2 separate regions of the Homo sapiens genome follow, and region 1 is linked to region 2. Evidence: fine-mapped expression QTL. A gene starts in region 2. The other region holds a variant in brackets. All regions are shown on one strand. Distances are between the middles of the regions.

What was found.
Region 1: its variant is fine-mapped to the expression of CDH13 in testis (GTEx, PIP 0.98).

The regions. Positions count from the first base shown.
Region 1 is chr16:83,057,310-83,060,214 of GRCh38, forward strand. All of the region lies in intron 3 of CDH13 (cadherin 13), which reads left to right. Among named protein-coding and RNA genes, the nearest start is that of CDH13-AS1, 340 kb to the right of the region's middle. The variant G/A (reference allele first, on the strand shown) is at 1,119.
Region 2 is chr16:82,625,658-82,628,562 of GRCh38, forward strand. It overlaps CDH13 (cadherin 13), which reads left to right and starts at 1,312. Exons shown (of 14, transcript NM_001257.5): 1 at 1,312-1,480. The coding sequence starts at 1,436.

The DNA.
Region 1 (2,905 bases), 430 kb after region 2:
TGGTTACCTTTGAAAAGGTGATGACTGGAAGGGGCCTGAGGGAGGTTTCTGAGATCATGACAGAGTTGTATGTCTTCATCTTTATGGTGGTGACATAGGTGTGTTCACTCAAAAAAAATTCACCAAACTGTACACTTACACTTTTGCAGTTTAATATATGAATGATACATGTTATGCTTTAATTAGAAAGTTAAAAGTAAGTTTTTTTCAAAAGTAGTAATTGGATGACTCCCGCTTTTATTGAGTTAGCAAGTATCTTTTACTGCCACTTTCTATTGTTAAAAAAAAAAAAAGGCTCACCACTGAGGCTGTAAGGCTAAATCCTTAGCATGACACACAAAACCATCTATAAACCAGTTTCTAGCCTTTCTTCCTGGCCATTCCCTTTGACCTGAGCTGTCTTGAATATTCTTAAGACTTGACAATACTAATTTTAAACCGTCTAAGATAAGATCACCTCCCACTCCAGAAAAGGGGTGAGGGTAGATGTTAAGACCAGAGTGTGCTTCCAGCACACTTGTATTTTTTATGGTACTAAGAAAGAAAAATGCTGACGCTTAAACCTGCACACAGTAATTCCTTAACATCAATGGTAAGGTTCCTCCCTAATTTTGAAGGCATTAAAATGGGGTCGGGGAAATGTCTTACAAATGATATTTTTTAAAAAAATAAAATAAAACAAAGATAATCATGTCTTGGATTATCATGACTCACAGCAACTTTACTTTCAAAAGTAAGAATATTTACTTCTAAAACTATGAAATCTTCACTATATTCTTAAAAATATAAATCGTTAAATGTCATTCTTTAGCTCTAAATACAAAGTTAGTTTGTTGAACTTCATGAGTTACGTCTTTTATCGGGCTTGGGGTGTGACCTTAGCCCCTCTCCTTTGTGAGGGGAGATGGCAGAACTCTCAGAAGCTTTTTCTATTCTCATCTTTGTTGGTTACTGGGGAAAAACTGGATTTCGCTGCACTCATCAAATAAAGAGGCCCAGGTAGCAGCGCCTCCACGTTTTGTTCAAGTGGGGTTTTCTGCGTGTGCCGCTGGCCAATTCTTCAAGAAAAGTGTTTGTTCTTCTCTGGCGGTTTGGTGTTCCTATGTTTCAACATGGGG[G/A]TACCAAATAATTCATTTCCCCTTTTCCCAACAGATGCATTCTTGTGACCTCACTGATGACAGGGGCGTCGTTTATTCTAACAAATGCTCTTGTCCAAATTCCAACCATGTTGCCAAGAGATGGCATAGCTGGTGAGGGCTGGACTTTAGGGGCCAATCTCCACTCCTGAGCTCCCCTGACCACACAGGAAGAAAACATTAATGATGTTCCCATACTGATGTTGTGGTGTAAGTGTCTCCTGTGTAAATAGAACTAAATATTTAGGAAAGAAAACAGAAGAGTCTTATGTAGTGCATTACAAACTAGAAAGCTTTTGAAGTCAGCATCTGGGATGGTCTTAAAAACAAACGTGCAGTCTGAGAGAAAGAATTACTGCTGACACACGCTGACCTCACAGAAACTATCTGGTGATGAGATTATCTCTCTTCCAGGACTCTAACAAGGCTTTGCAAGGATATTTTCTTGCTTTGCTTTGCTTTTTTTAATCTTCTTAACTGGTGGAACCTCTTGTTATGTGCAAATCTAATCCATTCTCATTCAAAGATGGATGTCCCGGTTTTACTGTATCTGCCTTAGTTGGAGATTCCCGGGAAGAAAAGCCCAGGACAAGTGGTCAGGTGCAGGAACTTGATCTGAGAGGTGGTCCCAGGAAGCAGAAGTGAGTTCATGGGGACATTGAGAAGAGGAAGGAGGCCAATCAAAAAAGAGCATTTCTGAGGTTGCTTCTGTACACAGGGGCTTCATTTCTTCAATTCTCCCAGATCCTCTGGGAACCCTATGAAATGCTTTTCAGAATTCTCAGAGTCATCCACCTGAAAAATAGAGGGACTGGAGCCTTTTTTCCTAGTCTCCCTACTGTCCATGGATTGAGAGTTGCCTGGGAGCAGGGAGAGCGGGTGTTAACTGCCTTCTGTTTAGAACAAGTTCCTGTATGTGTCAGAGATCTGGGGCAGGATGATTTGCAGTCATGTAAGCTTAGGTTGAACTCTGGGAGAGCCAGGTGAGTGTGTGCTCAAAAAGAACTGTCCAGTGCAGCTGCTGCTGAAATCAGAGGTGACTGCAAGGATGTAACACTGGCGCTCGGGTGTCTGCCATGGCCTAGGTTTCTTATGAGAGATTGAACTCTTCGGAGATTCCATCATTCAGAGCAGGCACAAGACGGTTTGGCCACCAATCTGGGTAGAGCCAGGCTGTTGCATGACAAGTCAGTCAGGAGAAAACTGAGGCTAGCAGGCTGACTTTCTGGTTCCATGACACACATCACATCTGCAATAGAGCTTAAAGACAGGGTGCTTATCCCTCAAACCTCCCTGTATCACTAACTTTCTTAATCCAGACTTTTGCCTTTGTTTTTTTTTTTGTTTGTTTTTTTTTTTTTTTTTTTTAGAAGGAGTCTCGCTCTGTCACCCAGGCTGGAGTGCAGTGGCAGGATCTTGGCTCACTGCAAACTCCACCTCCTGGTTCTCGCCATTCTCCTGCCTCAGCCTCCCGAGTAGCTGGGACTACAGGTGCCCGCCAGCACACCCAGCTAATATTTTTGTATTTAGAGTAGAGACGGGGTTTCACCGTGTTAGCCAGGGTGGTCTTGATCTCCTGACCTTGTGATCCGCAAGCCTCGGCCTCCCAAATTGCTGGGATTACAAACGTGAGCCACCGCACCCGGCCTACTTTTACGTCTCATAACCCAAAAGCTCTATGGCTTCAAAAATTCCCAACTCCTCAAAAAGCTGATTTTCTGTTTTATCAGTGCCCCTTTGATTGATAAACAATATATTAATATAAGATG
Region 2 (2,905 bases):
CAGATCCGGGGGCTGTGCCTAGACAATGTGGCTCCAGACTCCTTGCCCCTCCCTGCCTTCTGCTGCATCTTGATTGAGTCTAGCCATCTATTTCTTTAACACACACTAATTGCTGTCTCCATGTTCCAGGCCCTGTGCCAGATGCTAGAAATACATCCCCATCCACTGGATCTTGGCATGGTCCATTGCTCAGTGTCCTGCTATGTTACGTGTTACATAATGCATTTATTCCGGTATTTAGCCCATGGAAAATAATGCTGAAAGACATTGTATGCATGTTTCTACAACAAAACTATGTAACTTATGTTTCTTTTATTGCTTTGGCTATCAGGAAGCTCTTATCCAAATCAGAGCAAATACATTAGAATTTGGGCTTGTCATTTCAGTTTGCTGAACTTTTCCTTCTGGCCCAGATTTTCTATTTTGGTTCATAAATTCTATTGCACAAATGTCCTTTATTGTAAAACACCTTAAATTCTTTCTAAGGGAAGGCTGCATGGAAATGATACAGTAAGGTCTTCCCTGCATTTTCTTAGATTCCTATTAGGGAAGGCAGACCTAGATGTCCCTCTTACCCTCAGTCCCAAAGCCCCCCATTTATAAAATCCCTTAAGCAGTGACTACTGCTGTTCTGAGTACCTGGAGGTAGTTCAGAGCTTCTGAAAGGTAACATCCATATACAAAAAGAAGTTCCTTCCGATCCAGATCCCAGCTTTGGTGCCAGATGCACATTTGAGGAGTAGGTGGCTAGTCAGACTCTCACCTGAGCAGTTAATAAAATCTATTGCCCCTTAATGGAATTTTTTCTGCAAGCTCGAATTGATCTGTCATCTTTGTGATTTGTGAGATGGCAGGGAAGCACCAAACACCATCATGACTTGGGCCACAGTGGGGGGAAAAAAGGAAAAAAGAAAAAAAAAATCCACTGCCAAGCCTTGCCAGGCGTAGAAAGGGCTGGAACTGCTGGGGCCATTTTATCTGATTTATTGGAAATAGAGTGGATCTTATTAACATTTTAATAAAGAGAATCTTTTTGCACTAGGCTGGAAGTGGCCGCCAGTCCCCCGTGCAATTCCATTCTCTGGAAAAGTGGAATCAGCTGGCATTGCCCAGCGTGATTTGTGAGGCTGAGCCCCAACAGTCCAAAGAAGCAAATGGGATGCCACCTCCGCGGGGCTCGCTCCTCGCGAGGTGCTCACCCCGTATCTGCCATGCAAAACGAGGGAGCGTTAGGAAGGAATCCGTCTTGTAAAGCCATTGGTCCTGGTCATCAGCCTCTACCCAATGCTTTCGTGATGCTGCTGCTGATCTATTTGGGAAGTTGGCTGGCTGGCGAGGCAGAGCCTCTCCTCAAAGCCTGGCTCCCACGGAAAATATGCTCAGTGCAGCCGCGTGCATGAATGAAAACGCCGCCGGGCGCTTCTAGTCGGACAAAATGCAGCCGAGAACTCCGCTCGTTCTGTGCGTTCTCCTGTCCCAGGTAGGGAAGAGGGGCTGCCGGGCGCGCTCTGCGCCCCGTTTCTGCATTCGGATCGCCCGGCACGGGCAGGGTGAGGGGGCTTTCGGGGGGTCGGGGCCTCCGGTCGCGGCGGCGAAGACAGATCGGGGCTCGGTAGGGAGGTCATTCCGAGCCCAGAGATCCTAGGCACCCCCCACACACAGGCTCCCACTCTGGCGTGCGTGTGTGTGTGTGTGTGTGTGTGTGTGTGTGTGTGTGTGTGTGTACGTTCGTTAACGGGAGGAGGAGAGAGCTCCCAGTCCTTTTTTGCTAGCAGGGGCGACATTCTCGCCCACATCAAGTGGGGTAACTTTGGTTCCCTCCTCCGGAGGCTCGGTGCATTGGAGAAAGACTCAGTTAGAGGCGACTCCAACGAGCCGCGGTTTTCCCCAGCCCAACGCCCAGCGGCCGAAGCGCTGCTCGGGTCCGGATTGCGGGATGCGGGGCTGGAGAGGCCGAGCAGGCACCACCGACTTCCCAGGGCGCCCGGGCCCCCTGGTACAGCCCGGCTGCCCGCTGGAAGGCGCCTCGGGGCAGCAGAGAGCCTCAGCCCGGCTGCTGCTGTCGCTCAAAGGCGCCGGCGCCGGCCGCACCCGCATCGGGGTCCTTTTGCTCCCAGACCCCGGGCCCGAAAGGGCCGGAGCGTGTCCCCCGCCAGGGCGCAGGCCCCAGCCCCCCGCACCCCTATTGTCCAGCCAGCTGGAGCTCCGGCCAGATCCCGGGCTGCCGCCTCTGCTGCCTTCCCTGAGCGGGAGCGGAGCGCAGAGAAAAGTTCAAGCCTTGCCCACCCGGGCTGCAGCTGCTTGTTAACCCTCAGAGCGCCACGGCGCGAGGGAAGGGCACGCCAACCAGGAGAGGGGGCGAGGGAGATGCGGTCCGCCTGCAGTCACCTCTGCACCTCAGAGATTTCGGGAAGTTTGAGTGCAGGAAAGCAGCGCTCCGAGGCCAGGCCTGGGGTGCTGGCCGCTGCGGGGGGCACGCCCTGCGCTGCTCAGGGGCCTGTGGTTTCGGAGAGCACCCCGATCCAGTCCCCCATCGCCTCTCTGGCAGGCGTTGGGACTTGGAGTGAGCTGGCAGCCTGCAAGTGGGTGGATAAGAGCCAGGGCAGGGCAGGGCCGGGCAGAGTAAGGAGGGAAAGAGACAGGGAGTGCCTCAGGGTGCTAGGAATGAGTGTTGAGTTCCTGGCCGGGGTAGAGGCTCAGGTGAGAGTTTGCGGGTGAAAGGCAGGGGAAGGGAGTTGGGTTCCCAGGTAGGGACTGTCTGGGATGGGGAGACTGGTGCAGACTTCTAAGGGAGACCACTGTTAGAGCAATGTTGGGTTTAGACTTTGGAAATGGGCTAACATCTCAGAAATGCAGTGATGGGTGATAGTACCAGGGGAGATTCAAGTGCCCGGCTGCTGAGCCC